Linked DNA regions of Homo sapiens: regions 1 and 3 are each linked to region 2. The links come from fine-mapping of genetic effects on gene expression. A gene starts in region 2. Each other region holds a variant in brackets. All regions are shown on one strand. Distances are from middle to middle. Region 1 overlaps DENND1A (DENN domain containing 1A). Region 2 holds the start of DENND1A (DENN domain containing 1A). Region 3 overlaps DENND1A (DENN domain containing 1A).

Evidence for each region. PIP is the estimated chance that this variant, and not a neighbour inherited with it, causes the effect.
Region 1: its variant is the best candidate, but not a certain one, in a credible set for the expression of DENND1A in testis (GTEx, PIP 0.56).
Region 3: its variant is the best candidate, but not a certain one, in a credible set for the expression of DENND1A in testis (GTEx, PIP 0.70).

The regions. Positions count from the first base shown.
Region 1 is chr9:123,629,171-123,634,394 of GRCh38, forward strand. DENND1A (DENN domain containing 1A) reads right to left here. Exons shown (of 24, transcript NM_001352964.2): 10 at 1,206-1,306. Among named protein-coding and RNA genes, the nearest start is that of MIR7150, 150 kb to the left of the region's middle. The variant G/A (reference allele first, on the strand shown) is at 1,966.
Region 2 is chr9:123,927,559-123,932,782 of GRCh38, forward strand. DENND1A (DENN domain containing 1A) reads right to left here and starts at 2,568. Exons shown (of 24, transcript NM_001352964.2): 1 at 2,331-2,568. The coding sequence starts at 2,347. RefSeq lists enhancers at 325-374, 1,425-1,504, 1,440-2,125, 1,755-1,954 and a silencer at 2,305-2,794.
Region 3 is chr9:123,413,268-123,418,491 of GRCh38, forward strand. All of the region lies in intron 19 of DENND1A (DENN domain containing 1A), which reads right to left. Among named protein-coding and RNA genes, the nearest start is that of MIR601, 13 kb to the left of the region's middle. The variant A/G (reference allele first, on the strand shown) is at 2,314.

The DNA.
Region 1 (5,224 bases), 300 kb before region 2:
CTGGACTCAATCACTCCGAACCAGTGGTCAGTGTCCCGTGTCATCTGTCCTTAAGCAACAGGGCTATGACCCTCAAATGGCTTCCCTTCTCCTGAAGCTCTCAATATCCGGCACGCAGTTAGTGCCTTTCCCTGTCTGTGTACCATGCTCCCTTACGGACTTCTGTTGACTTGAACTGTTTGGAGACAATGTCTTTAACTGCATTACACTAGAGAAAGAAATTATTCATGAGGAAAAGGGATCCAAATCGGTCACAAAGACAGTCTGTTTTGGTAATCTATTGAAGACAGATAGTGAGGACGATGATGTGTCTGCGGAAACATTTTCTGAGCTACCATGAGCCAGCTTTTCTACATGGGGTCCTTTCATATGTTATCTTGTTTCATCTTTGTATGATTATGTATTGAACAACTTCCTTTTACAGATGAGTAAACAAAGTCTTAAAGCCAAGTGACTTGCCCAAGATGGTAGGGCTGTCGCCAAAACCTTTGTTTCTTCCTTCTACTAAAGTCTGTTTCACTGAACAGTGAAATTCTCCTCAAAGAACTTCAGACAGTTTAGCGCTGCCTGGCTTGTGCTCCCAAACCACAGTGAGCACAAGTCTTAAGGAATGTGCCAGGGCATGGCTGAAACTTGAAGACCTTGGAGATCTCAATTGTTTTTGTCCCCAGTTTACAATTTGTCTTAGGAAAAAACAAACAAACAAACACGCAACCTTTTGGTGCATTGCTTCCCCCAAACTGAGAAATGTGAAAAGTTACTACCTATTCTCTTGTACTCTTCAGAGTGTCATGACATATAAGAAAACTGGAAATGAAAGGGCCGTGCAATCAGGTGGTCTTAAATCCATGCCACTTAGAAGTTAGTATTTCTATTATTATTATTATTGAGACAGAGTCTCACTCTGTTGCCCGGGATGGAGTGCAGTGGCACAATTATAGCTCACTATAGCCTCAACCTCTCTGGCTCAAATGATCCTACCAACTCAGCCTCCTGAGTAGCTGGGACTACAGATATGTGCCACCATGACTGGCTTTTTTTTTTTTTTTTTTTTTTGTACAGATGGATTCTCACTATTTTGTCCAGGCTGGATGAAGTTAATATTTTTAATGTAGAGTCACCAACTGCATTAACAAGTGACACACCTAACACGCCCAGTCAGATCAGGGCAAAGGAGAAGCAGAGGACAGGGCCAGCCACCTTACCAGCAGTAGTCCAGCAGATGCGGCGGCAGCACGGGGATGTACACGTGCTGCCAGTACATGGGGTAGAGCATCGCCGCAGACCCGTGGATGCAGGCAGTCAGCTGGAACAGAGCAAAGCAGAGATCAATGAACAAATCCAAGGGAGGAGACACCGCCATTTGATTTCAGCAATACAATTCTATAATTCTTCAATATGTTTACATGATAAGCTGAAAAACCTGGAGAAATCATTCTAAGTTAACTCAATCACCCTAATTCAAATTTAGTAAGAGCTTTCTTTTCAAAAAATCTTTTTTTCTGATGATAAAGCTAATATACGAAATAGAAAATTTTTAAAATGGTGAAAGGGATTAAAATAAATGCCACACCATCAGAAGATTTAACATTGTAGGTTATTACACACACAAGCACATATATTCCCCTTTTAAATACAATTAGGATGACTATACAGTATTCTTCTGTGTTTCTTAAAAGTGAACATTATTTGATGCCATTTTCCTTTAAATATTCTTAGAAAAAGATATCTCTTAATGATGCTTTAAAGGCACAAATCCAGAATATTCTTTAAATATTCTTAGAAAAAATATCTTTTAATGATACTCGATGAATTTCCCATGCTATTAATATATTTAGCTACTCTACTACCATTAAGTAATATCATCATACAGGTCAATAATTTGTATCTATAGTTCCTAAATGTAGAATTCAGAGACAAAGGTTATAAACATTTGAAGGCACTTAATAAATACATATCTCATAA[G/A]TATGTTAGTATAATGAATAGATGAAGGATGGAGGCTCTTTACACCCCCGACCCCCAGCCATACACCACGATTCTGGCCTCCCTGCCCCTCACCAGCACTACTCCTTGTAGTCAAGTTAGTAGCTTTAAAATTGTACCTATTTTACTTTTATTTTTATTCTGATCAGGACTAAGGTTGAACATTTTGTCATATGTTTCTTCACTATATTTATATAATAGACAAATGGTCTATTCATATTCTTAGCCCACTTTAAAAATGAGTATTAGTAATTTTTACTGGTTTATAAGCAATCACTGATGAAATGCAAAGAATACCCAGCCTTTGTAATGTTTTGAAAATAATTTATCCTTAATTTTCTTTGAATTTCTGGGCAAAGAGAAGGTCTAAATAATTACGTAGACAAATATTTTCTTCCATGATGGTTTCTACTGCTTTTATCCCAAGAAAGTCCTCCAAATTTTCCCCTAGCATTTAACTCTTCAGTCCATCTGGAATTACTTTAGGTTTAAGGACTGAGGTGAGAATTTATTTTTTCCACATAGGTAATCAATTGCTCTGGCACTGTTTACTGACTAATCCTTCCTCTCCACAGTCTTTTGACTTGCCCCTATTTTGTATTCCTTTTTTTTCTTGAGAGCTAGAGACATCATACAATCAGTATTTGATGCAATTAAAAATTTAGGAAACAAAGATACTACAAAGGGATACAATTGCTACAAAATTCAATATAGTGAAAAGAAAGGGAAAAAAAACAACTTTTGGAGATATAGGTATGAAGTGACAAAAGCCAACAACACATATTTCTTTCTGTCTTTTTTTCTTTAATGTTTCTTTGGTTTCAGGGAAGCCTGTTCCCATGAGGACTTTGCTTCTTTTGGAAGCTGTTAACTGGCCTTTGCTGACAGAAGAACATTTACGTGGCGAAAGAGTGACGTGCCAAGGCCCAGTTAAAAGAATCCCAGAGGTTAGTGTAACATGAACAGCTTTAAATTGGATATTCTGCTGATGTTTCACAGTTGTGAGAGCTGTGTGTTAAAGCCAGGGCTGCTACTCCCCACCCCCACCTGCCCTGACTCTTTCCTCCAGACCCTGTTCTTGAGCCAGGTCCATGCCATGAACTGGAACTGATTCAGCAGGCACCCAAGAACAGTTCCCAGTGACCCCGTCAAGGCTCGCAGGTTTAACCCATCCCTTCACATTCTATTTCCATAGGTACCCATATAAAGGAGGGTGATATAGATATATATATCTCACATACAAAAATACACATATATAAAACTAATCCCTTCAGGGCTTCTTAGAGATGAAAAGTCCTTGCTGGTGTTGAGTGAGTGGAGAATGAACCAACTCTGACCTGATTCCACCCTGAAGTCAGGCTGGAGGGTTCCACTGGCCCTGGGTCTCAGCTCTTTCTGCTCATCTTTAACTAGCTGCCAGAGCGCTCCTCCTCAAGTGCAGGTTCCGGCCCATCACTTCCTACTCAGAAGTCTTTGGGGACAAGCCTGGCCCGGATGGCTCCACCAGCCCACGGTCTAGCTTTACAGCAGCCATCTGTAGCCACACTCTGTACCATCTTCTCCAAGTCTGTCCTTGGAATACATCACTTAGATAGAGTCATGTACTCCTTTTCCTCCCATCCCTTTCCACCCGTCCCCCAAACTGGCCTGGATTTGTGCCTCTAGCAAACTCCTCCCTCAGGTCTCTGTGTAAGTACTTCCTCTTCAAAGTCTTCCCTGGTTCCCTGTGCATAGGCACCTATTATAATAATAATAATATTATTATTATTATTGAGACAGGGTCTCACTCTGTCACCCAGGCTGGAGTGCAGTGGCACGATCTCGGCTCACTACAACGTCTGCCTCCCAGGTTCAAGCAATTCTCCTGCCTCAGCCTTCTGAGTAGCTGTGACTACAGGTGTGTGCCACCATGCCCGGCTAATTTTTGTATATTTTGTAGAGACGGGGTTTCGCCATGTTGGCCAGGCTGGTCTCAAACTCCTGACCTCAAGTGACCCACCCACCTCGGCCTCCCAAAGTCTTGGGATTACAGGCGTGAGCCACTGCACCCAGCCCATAGGCACCCATTATTAACTGGACCATAACTGGCTGCATGTTTGTTTCCTGACTGTAAAGTACAGGAAGATCCTGTCCTCACCTCCATGTTCTCAGTGGCCCAGAACACACAACACACACACGTGCACTAGTTAATGGGATGTGTCCTGAATAAATAAAATATGATTTTTACTTAGAATATACTCACAGTACAAAGACAGTTTAGTAACTTGGCTTTTAACAGAAGTGTATCAACATTCCCATGAGTCTCACAGAGTAAGGTACATGACTCAAAGTCTAAAACAGTTTGGGTGCGGTGGCTCACGCCTGTGATCCCAGCTCTTTGGGAGGCTGAGGTGGGCGGATCACTTGAGATCAGGAGTTCAAGACCAGCCTGGCCAACATGGCAAAACCCCATCTCTACTAAAAATACAGAAAAATAGCCAGGCATGGTGGCACATGCCTGTAGTCCCAGCTACTCGGGAGGCTGAGGCAGGAGAATTGCTTGAACCCAGGAGGCAGAGGTTGCAGTGGGCTGAGATCACACCACTACACTCCAGCCTAGGCAACAGAGCAAGACTCTGTCCCCCCAAAAAAGAAAGAAAGGAAAAAATGTCTAAAACAAAAACAGCAAGCTTAGACACACAAGCATGGCACTTTTGGAAAACCAAGTCATTCATTCATCCATTCGCCCATTCATTCAATCATATGCCTACTCTCTAACTCCACAACATATAAATAAATAAATAAAAGCACTTCAAAATCTACAAGGTCCCATACAAATGAAGGTAACATCATCACATGAATTAATTTGTGATTCTCTTTGAAAAAGTCATTTAATAGAATGAACCTGGTTAAGACAGAACTTGATTATGTGACTCTTTTTAGGTTAAACTGGTTTGGGTCAAAAGCCTATTTAAACATAAAGTAGCAGAGATCTCATCTTCAGATAATGTTCTTTTCATGTCTTTTTAACCTCAAAAGCAAACCCACCAACCTCAATGCCAAGATTTTAAAATTACTTATCCTTCACAAAAAAACAAAAAATCAAGCTTTTAAGGTGTTTGCTCATTTCATTAGTGGGTTTTCTAAGGGCCAAATTTCTGCAATCGGGGTAAAATGCATTACTCATTTGATTAAGAAAACAAACAAACAAAACGGAATTATTTGGCTCTTTTCCAAAATACTAAATGACATAAACTATGTG
Region 2 (5,224 bases):
GGACACAGTCCTCCCCATTTTACCTTCAGGGAAACTGAGGTTGAAAAGGCAGTCTGTGTAAAGTTTCATAATTAGCATTAAAAAGAGCTGGAATTTGAACCTAGACCTGATTCCACCTAGTCAACTGACTTGCTGCATCAGAGATAAGCAAGAGAAAACAAAAGGAACCCCTCCCCCTTGTCCCTACCTCCAAGACTGTCCTATTCAATGGAACCTGCACACTTAGATTTCACCACAGCCAGGAGAACATCTTGAATGCCCTGCCAGGAGGGAAAGCCAGCCAGTAGTAACCAAAGCTCTGTCTTCTCCAACAACTAGAGGAGCACTTAAGTGGGTAATTTCCTGTCCATCCCCATTCCTAGCTACAGGCAGAAGTTGCATAATCAACAGTCACTATAAATCACAACTACTTTTCATAACTTCTCTCTTCATATTCTCTTTCGGTTTCACCACAAGCTAACATATTTCCCAAGCCTAAGTTTTTATCACAGAGTAGTCTAGTTTCAAGATCAATAAGGCTATTCTTCATACTCATTTCACGCTTAATACAATTCCATGCCTTAGTAAATTCCCTAACCCAAGTGCTCAGAATTAGCGATGGGTTCCACAAAACACATTTGAGAAATGTATTTGTCAACCTGCTACCTTGGAGAGCAACAGAGAGATTTGATGGCTAGCCATCTGAACTTTTACTTGCTGGATTTTAATACTGGTTCTGACACTCACTGCTTCATGTCAGGCAAGTTTCTGAACTTTTCTGTAACAAGAAGGGTAAGTGTCCTCACGCATACTCTGCAACTCTAAGTTGGCTTCTGGAAAGTGTTTCTAAGTGCTATTGAAATCCAAGTTTACAACTCTTACTTGGAAGCAGGAGCTAAACTTGAGTGCCTCTTTAATCCCAATGTTTCACAAACGACATCTTTTTACCTCCCAAGCCTCTCAAGCTCTTGTTTGGAGCATGCTTCTAACTTTTTTCTCATTTCCACAAAAATAAAGATTTAACAGAGTGTTCATGCGACTCTTCCATTTTCATTACCATAAGCAAACTTTTCTAGTTTCATTCAGCAGATGTCTCAAGGCTGCTGCAGCGCATCTCATACATATTTTGTAAATGAGAAGCCTAACCACACGGGGGACTGCAAGGCTGGGCAAGGGTCACACTGCACGGGCATCACCTGGACATGAGATGCAATGTTTGAATAATTATTAGTTTCACCCTTAAGGCCCTTCTCCTTTCAAACTTCCCTAGTACAATTCTCAAAATGCTGAAATAAACACATTCCACAAACTTTCTTGTAAGAGGGTTTAAAGTGTCCTAGGAAAGTTGTTTTACAGAAAAGCCTATGCTGTCAACTTTGCTTTTTAATGCCCTTAAACAATTCTATTAGTCACAGAGGAAAAAGTGAACATTTGTTAGTAATTAGAGATAAAACATCTCCAGTTCTGGGGCAGAGGAAGGGAGAGGCCACAAGAGGACCTGGCTGGGAGGGGAGATAGAGTCGAAAGCCACACACCCAAATTGGACCGCTTAAGAGTTGCACTTTCCAAAGTCAACTTCTAAGTCTACAAGGACAGCAACAATGTTTCAGTGGATTCTGAAGTTACATGTATCAACAATTTCCCCGGAAAGCTAACCCTCCACCGGGAACTCCAGGTGAATGAATGAGTGAGGGAATTCGCCAGATTGAGTTACAAAGCCTTTCCAACGATTATCAAGAGCAGGTGCTCGGTTACAACACAGAGGTATCCTCCTTCACAGCCTTTGGACCTTGCTGCGTGGAGATTTTCACAGATAAGAGGGGGGAAATAGAGAGACAGGCCTTCCTCCCCGGCCATCCACACCTTAGGTGGCCACACCATGAGCGGCCCCTCCCTCTAAGAACCTCACGCGACTTCTGTGGGGGCCGCAGGCCTCAAGCGGCCAGGCTGCAACCTCTCCGGACCTGCCAACTTTCAGGGGCGCCCCAAACATGCCCAAACATGGGGAGGTGCTTCCGGGGCTTTCCCACTCCCCTTCCCCACAGTTGAAGGACCATTTTCAGGGGCTCTCCGTAAACCCGGGGAGGGGGCCGCCCTGTAATCTCAGCTGTTCCGACCCCCAGGTGAGGAGGGGACACCTGACCCCCGGCGCCCTGCCACCCCGCGCGCACCCCGCCCCCGCGCCTCCCTGGATCGCCATAGCAACCGTCCCCCTCCCCGCGTGCCGGCGTCACGCGGGGCGCCCCTCTGGTCTCGGCAACAAGTCCCCCGCGCGGCCCGCGGCCTGCAGCCCTGGCCCGGCCTCGCCGCCCCGCGCCCGGCCCGGCTCCGCCCGGCCCGGCCGCACTCACTTGATCCTGGAGCCCATGGTCCCCAGGCCTCCTCATGGGCCCGCGGGCCCCGCTCGGCGCTGCGCTGCCCGCCCGCCCGCGGCCGACCGGCCTCCCTCTGGCGCTCTCCCCGCCCCTTCCTCCCTTCCCTCAGGCTGGGGCCCGCCCGCTCGAGGCTCGCTCCCTCGCCGCCGCCGCCGCCTCCAGGGGTTAATGTACTCGCTCCAGCCCGGCGAACGCCATGGTCGCCGGCGCGCGTGCCCGGCGCGCGCCGCCCCCTCCGCCTCTCACCACCGCCCCTCCCGCCCGCGCTGCCGCCGCCGCTGCCCGCTGGGGCTGCTGGGAAGTGTAGTCCGCTCGCGGGGGCGGGGCCGTGGCCGGTGGGGGCGGGGCGGGAGCGCGGTCACCCGCACGTCTCCCAGGGCGCGGGCCCCGGAGGACTCTGGCGTTCCGTTGCAGGCCCTTACACATCTGCACCCCACTGCGCCCCGCTGGAAACCTCCACTCACAGCCGCCCTGAAGAGACCCTAATCCTCTCATGGAGACCCCAAGCCCTCCCGATGAAACCGCCACCAATCCTCCCATTGGAGGCCTCCCACCCAGCCTCTCTAACGGAGAGCTAATCCCCCGCCCAGGCCTCCATGAAAACACGTTTTCCCTTTAACATCCCGCACCTTCCAGTAAGTTCCGTGCAGAACCTCTTCTCCATCACACCGTCCACTTCCCCATCTGAAGGCCTTTCCTCTTCCTTTCCCCTTAGAGCTTGAAGGAGACCCCACATACCTACAGGAAAGCCACCTGGGGGCTTCGTGGACCCACGTGGTGGCTCAGCTCTGCCCTCCCGCTGAGGACCTCTGCCTCCCTTTATCAGCCGTTTTGGGAACTCCAACATCGAAGCCTCCTGTTAACACAACAGTCCCTGATAGAGATTAACTCAATGCAAATGAAAGGATTTGAGAGCCGAGATCACCAGCCTGCTACCTACCCCTGCTCCCCCTTGGGATTCACTTCCATGAACACCTCAATTTCATCCCCTCTAGGGCCAGAGGGATCATAAAGGAAGCAATAATCACAGCTACCATTAGCCACCCTTTAATGAGCGGGTGAGTGCCCTTTCTGCATCAGACACAGTATTTCCGTACATCATTAGTGCCAATCCTCACAATAATCCTGTGTTCATCTCCCTAATTTACAAAGAGGAAACTGAGCCACATTCCCAAGGTCACATAACTAGCAACGAGTGAAGAAGCCAAGATTAGTGTCCAGACTGAATCATTCCAGACACCTGTGACATAGTCATGCTTTAAGGTGGCACCTTTGGCCACAAGTCCAAAGACATTTTTAATATTAGGCTTTTTTTCCTTTTTTTTTTTTTTTTTCCAATTTTCTGTCCCGAAATGCCATTCATCACTTCTGCCATTTTAGTTCTTATAAATGCATGGAGTGCCTCCCCACCCTACCCCCACCCCATAGCCTCTACGTAACTGGTCCTGCGTCCTAGCTCCCGGCCAGGATGGGAGGAAAGAAAGCCAGAAGATAAGTCGTAGAAGACTTCTTCTGTTGGAGTCACCTTCTGAATAAAGATAGTTTCTCCCTTTTGCCTCTGCCTTTAGGTTGTTGAAGTCAAAGGGTAAACTTTTTAAAATGAAAACCAAAAAAAAAGTGAAAATGTCCAAACTGTCATTTTGAATTTAAAGTCTTATGCACCCAGACACCAATACCGACTTGTAAACACCCCCAGGAGCAAAGCTCTGCTAGACAGGCAGGAGCTCTGTGGTGTTTATTCACCTATGAAACTTCTCCAAGGAACAGTTGCTATCAAGATCTTCCCTGGAATGGGAGCCAGTTCAAAAGCTCTGAGCAGGAGACTATAAATAAAACAAAGTTATTGGTGGAGGGCAAAGCTGGCTGCTTTTCAAAGGAGGTTGTAGCCATCCTGGCCACAAATATGTCTGGGTGCCTGCTGGGTGGGGTGTGTGTGTGTGTGTGTGTGTGTGTGTGTGTGTGTGTGTGTGTTGGAGAGGGAGGTAGAAGGTGGGGATTATGTGTCTGCTCAGGTGGCCTCAGAGACAGCAGGGTGGTCTGAGGAGAGAGCACTGGACTGGGAGTTAGGAACGTGGCTTCTAATTCTGGCTTCAGCATTGACTGGCAGATTTTATGCAAATGATTAGACAAGTGTATGTTTTAGTTTCCTCCCCCGTAAAATGGGCAGAGAGAGTGATGAGAAGCTTCCATCATAAGAGCGAGTGTAACATAGGAGCAAAGAGCACAGGCTCTAGAACCAGACTGCCAGGGTTTAAATCTCAGCTCTACCTCTTACTAAATATATGGCCTTGGGTGAATTATTCCTTCTCTGTGTGTCTCAGGTTCTCTGTCTGTAAAATGGAAATGGTGATAATAATAGACCTATTTTAGTGAGTTGACACGAGGATTAAGTGAGTTAGTGACATTTATAAAGTATTTAAACAGTGATTATCACATATTAAGTACTCAAAAATTAAAAGCAACTATTATATACAAAACACTTAGCACCGTTTGGCTTTTATTATTAAAATTAATAAGGCAACCAGTGGCTGGGCATGGTGGCTCACACCTGTAATCCCAGCACTTTGGGAGGCCAAGGCGAGTGGATCACTTGAGGCCAGGAGTTCAAGACCAGCCTGACCACCAACATGGTGAAAACCCATCTCTACTAAAAAATAGAAAAAATTTAGCCGGGTGTGGTGGCAGGCGCCTGTGGTCCCAGCTACTCAAGAGGCTGAGGCAGGAGAATCGCTTGAACCCAGAAGGCAGAAGTTGTAGTGAGCCGAGATCACGCCACTGCACTCCAGCCTGGGCAACAGAGCAAGACTGTCTCAAAGGAAAAACAAAGGCCGGGCATGGTGGCTCATGCCTGTAATCCCAGGACTTTGGGA
Region 3 (5,224 bases), 510 kb before region 2:
TAATAATTTTTAGATTGATTACATGTTGAAATAATATTTTGGATATATTGGGTTCATTATATTAAAATCAATTTCACCTGTTTATGTTTCACATTCAGAATTCCACATGTGACTCCCGTATGAAGCTCCCATTATGTTTTTCTTGGACAGTGCTGATATAGGGCTCTACTGAGTGGGAGTGACACTTCAGATCTCAAATCTGCCTTAGAATTTGTTTTCTGAACCTGCCCCACTACTCCTGGAGGGCAGGGCCTGTGTCCCAGTTGTCCCTGGGTCCCTGGTGCTCTGCATGGAACCTGTCGGGGCAGCCTGAGGGGAAAGCGGGTCCAGGGACTTGGTGGAGGGTTCCCTGGCGGCACATGGAGAACACGATGGGATAGAATGACACCGTGGCTTCCCAGATCCTATGCCATTAGCTGGGCGTGAGGGCTGACCCATGCTTGGTGACCCTTCAGCTGACAGCTACCCGGGAGTTGGGGGTGCTGCCTAGGGATGGGCAAGGCCACCATGTTTTTTCCCCTTCCTGGCTTACAGGAAGTGTGTGGGGGAAAGGGGAACAGCCCCCCCACCCCTCAATTCACACCATTCATCAAGAGGAAGAGGTGATCAGGGAGAGGGGAGCCCACCCCCTCCACCGGTGCACAGGCTGCTACCCTGTCTAGACACCCAGCTCTCCTACACCACTCCCCACAATACTGCTTCTCTTATGCTTGGCCTTTCTACTTCGGGGGAACCATCTTCTCCAGCCCCACTGTCTTCACTGCTTGTCACCTCTGGCTTGGGCTATTTCCATTCCTGCTGGGTGGCAGTGCACCAGAGCGCTCGGGAGGCAGCCTCTAGGGGTCAGACAGTTTTGGAGAGAACCCCAGTTCTCCCATTTACTCCCTGGGTTACTCCAGGCCCACGATTTGACCATTCCAAGCCTTACTGTCCTCATCTGTGAAGTACAGGTAACAGCACTGCCTACCCGAGTGTCCTGTTAGGAAGATTCAACGAGATGATGGACGTCAGGTTCTTTGCACAGTGCCACCAACAGACATTAGCAACCATTACCATCAGCAGGTTTCCCTGCCTCCAGCCTCTCCCCCTCCCAGTCCATCGCCTACATTTGTTTCCAGAGAGGACTTAAAAAAATGTCCACCCAGTCTTGGCACTTGGCAGATGAAATCATCTCAGTGGAAGGCCGGCATCTCACAGGGTGTCTGCTGAGAAACACCATCCTGGGAGACGCATTGTGTGAAGGGAAAAAAGGAGGTTCCCCAGCCAGGCAAATCTGAGAAATGCTGTCTTCTGTCTTGCTCCTTTTGGGGATTCACAACGCCTGTTAGCATAGCAAAGGCTGGTGAGTCTTGCAAGAAAAAAACCCACCCAAACCAGGCAAAAACCTATTAACTCTTTTTTAAAAAGTCCTATTTCCCAAGTTTATTTGAACATAGACTTGCTTTCCCTATACCACCCATGAATATCCCCTGGAAAATGCTGTCTGAAGTGTTCAAAGCCCTCCAGATTCAGGGCCCCGCCATCCACCTCCGCAATCTCATCTCTGGTAAAACCCCGCCTCACATCCACAGCACACCGGCTGTCGTTATCAGCTCACTCACTTCTCTGTTTACCATAGGGTCTAGTAGAGTACTTGATACCTAATAGGTGCTCAGCAAATTACTTTTGGCTTAAACTTCCTGGCACATGTAAAAACACACCAAATGTCAATTCTCCAGATTCTTCAATTAACTCATTTTCTTTTGCTTGTCCTCGGGAAGTGCTGGCTGTTTTGCAACTGAATTGATAAATGGTGGGAAGAAAGCAGCCTCTTGACCACACCCATTCTAAAAGTTAGCAGAGTGAGCCAGCGGGATATAAAGATGCCAAGAAAGAGTAACGTGGTACAGATGTCCTGGCGCACCCAGTCAGATAAAACCCAACAACGGCAACCAAGAACAGGAAGCCACATTGCCCCTTCTGACACTCGGGGAGTTTTCCCTGCGGGTTGTCGGCACGAGGGGATCCTGTCACCAGAGGAAACACACAGGGACGGGGGCTGCACTCACCGACCCTGGGCTTGTTATGATGCTGGAGCATATGATGGGGACACCTCCTGTGGGGTGGCCGCCAGGAAGAGAAAGGTGAACTCCCAGGGGGTGCGCATTGAAGACCCTCCACCCTGGGGCTGGGGAGAGGAAGAAGGGGAGGGCTGCACTAATTATCAGGATGCCCTGCCAGGAGTGTGCAGGCCCTGGGGACCAGAGCTGAGGCTGGGGACAGGTGAGCAGCTGGATTGTCACCAGCGGATTAGACAGTAATCCCGTGGGAAGC[A/G]GTCTCAGATTTCGGACACTAGAACATCTGATTGTGTGCAGGGCCCTCCTGCTCCCACCGCAGGGTCTCCAGGCCTAGCTGGTTTGCTGAGTGACTTTGGCAAGCAAGTGACTTCCCTGGGCCTCTGTGTCCTCATCTGTGAGGCCAGTCACGAGGGCCCTGCTGCAGGGATGCGGGGCATCTGATGGCACTTCACGCAGGGCCAGGGGCACAGTGGACACGCTGCTGGGGAGGCCTCTGCTTCCTAGACAGGGCGTGGTGGGGCCATCGGCCATGGTGGTTGCAGTTTCCCAAATAAGCTGGGGTGTCCCCAGCTGGGGACACAGATGGGGAAGAGTAGTCTGGAGACCATTAAACACTGTAGGAGGTGAGTAGTAGTGATTTGGGTGGGAAGAGGGGGTAAGGGGATGAGCTAGGAAAGGATCAACTCAGAAAAGCATGCTCTCTTCCAGAGAGTGGCCCCGGTGCTCTAGAAGCTGAAGCCAGCACTAGCTGAATGTAGGGACTACAACAGTGTGGTTGGTGTGAGGCCCGAGAGGACGGCAGAGCTGGCCAGGACTCAGTGAAAGTTATTCTGAACCTGGAGTGGTTCCTCTCCCATCTGACTCAGCTCTGGTTGTCTGCATCCCCAGCCCACAGCCCAGGGCTGGGCCCCTGAGCCTGCTCCTCTTTCACGCTGGTGCTCCTGCCCTTGCTAAGTGTCCTAGTGGCCATGGAAAAGGGAACAGATTGGAGGGAGGTAAAGCGAGCTGCTCAACACCCCCAGCTGGTAATGGGCAGAGCTGGGAGTGTTGGTTGTCATCGGGAAGGCCTCTTGACCGCTGACCGCTTGAGTGCTCTTTCCACCGCTGAAGGAAAGGAAGGTAAAACTGGAAGAGCTTTAAAGTAGATGCAGCAGAGAATCGAAGCAGTCTGGGCATCTTTGCATTGAGGTCATGTTATATGTGATCCTCTGTCCCCTGGCCGGGTTGAAATGTGGCTACACAGACTGCTGCTTCTTAAGTCAGTTCAAAAAGACTGGGCCTTTGGCGATCTTTTGCTAAGGAGAGTTCAATTCGACAGTTCCTCCAGCACTTCCCGAGCTGGGCCAGGGCAGGAGGGGAGAGAGGGCCGGCGAAGCGGGGAGAAGGCCGGAGTTTTCTTCGATGGTCAACGCAAAGTGCCTGCTTTCCTGAAAAACACATCTGGAGGGGAAGCAGATGGACTGTCACAGAGTGGAAGGATTCCTCCTGTGTGTCTTTATGGAACAACTAAGTATTTGGGGGCCAGGACCAGGGGGATTCAGAGAATAAGACACAGTCCTTGTCCTTGAGGACTGCAGAGTCTGGTGGGATTTGACCTACACCATGGGAAAATAACTTCTTAAAGTGAAAGAAATATTGGTGGGGTAAACCCCAAGAAATAGACTTCGGGTTAGAAACCCATGGGTTCACGAGTTGGTTCTGTCATTTTCTAGTTGACTTCAGTATTGGTTCTGCCACTTAGGCGAGTTATTTAATCTCTCTTAAGTCTCAGTGAACTCTTCTGTAAAATGGCAAAACTCCCAGGTTACAAGCATCGGTGTGAGGATGAGAGTACAGTTACAGCCGCACGAGGTTCTGGTTTGATATCCTGAAGATGAAATGGGACCACTCCATCTTCCATCTCCCCATGGTACCCACAGGTCTTTCCAGAAAAGTCCTATGGACGTGAGGACCCTGGTTTTCCAAAGCTGTGTGCTATCAGCAAGGTTCTGTTGAAGGACACTGGATTTTAATAATAATCTCTTCTATTTATATGATGTGTTTTCCTTTCAAAGCATTTTAACTTCTGTTCTTTCTTTTGAACCTCACAGTCCCTGGTGAGGCAAGTTAGAGAAGGATTATTTCCCTGTTACAGAGACAGGAAACAGGAGGCCCAGAGAGGTTAAGGGACTAGTATGAGGTCACACAGCTAGTAGCGAAAACTAAAACAAGCAGGTATTCTTAGCCCATTGTGCTATCCTTGTCAACTAAAATTTCCAAAGTCACCTGGAATCCTTTCTGACACGGTTCTTCTAATCCTTGTCCCTTCTGAAGTTAGAATCTGTTGTTAGAGATCTGTGCCTCAGAGAAAAGGCTGATGAGAGAGTAACTGTCACCTTCTCCTTCTTTCCTTATTTGAGCATCTTTTTGTGGTGCTTTCCAAAGGAGGCACCTGATTCATTTGTCCATTCATTCAACAAACAGTGCGTGGCATCCCAGGCACAGGGGCACATGTCTCACCAAGACTCTGGTAGAGGGCGCTGTCATGCATGGGGTACACAGGAAGGTCTCTGCCATAGATTGGGGGGGGGGCAGTGGTAGGGAGTGCAGGGACAGGGGACCCACAGTGGTCCAATCAGACAAGAGTGAGGCTGAATATGAGGACAGGGCAGGCCAGGACCTGGGAGGGGCTGGGGGAGGTCAGATAAAAAGAGGGCCTTGAATGTCAGGCTGAGAATTTGCGGATTTTCTTCTGAGCTCAGTGGGAGGGATATAATCAGAGACACAATAAGAGGAACCTTGACGTCCTTGGTATAGAAAATGCATTGGAGGAGGATGGGGTATGCTCCTAGGAACAGACACTCCCCTCCAATCACAGGAGCCTGCCCAGGCCTCCATATTGCCAACCCACCGGCCCTGGCCACACCACTGCTGGGAGATGTGAACACAAGAGAGGGTAAGACCGAAGGCATGATTGACACAGAAGTCCCTGAGAAGAGGGGACCTCTTTGGCCTTTGTTGGTCTCTGCCTGGCCCTCGGCATCTCTATCTGTCAGCTGTGTGGGCCAGGTGAGTATGCTCATTGGATATGAAACCGGCATTTATGAGGACAGCATCTGATTTGCAGTTCATTTGTTGATGCAGCAAAACACATTGTTTCCAAAAGGTCAGGAGGGGAAGGCGCGTTG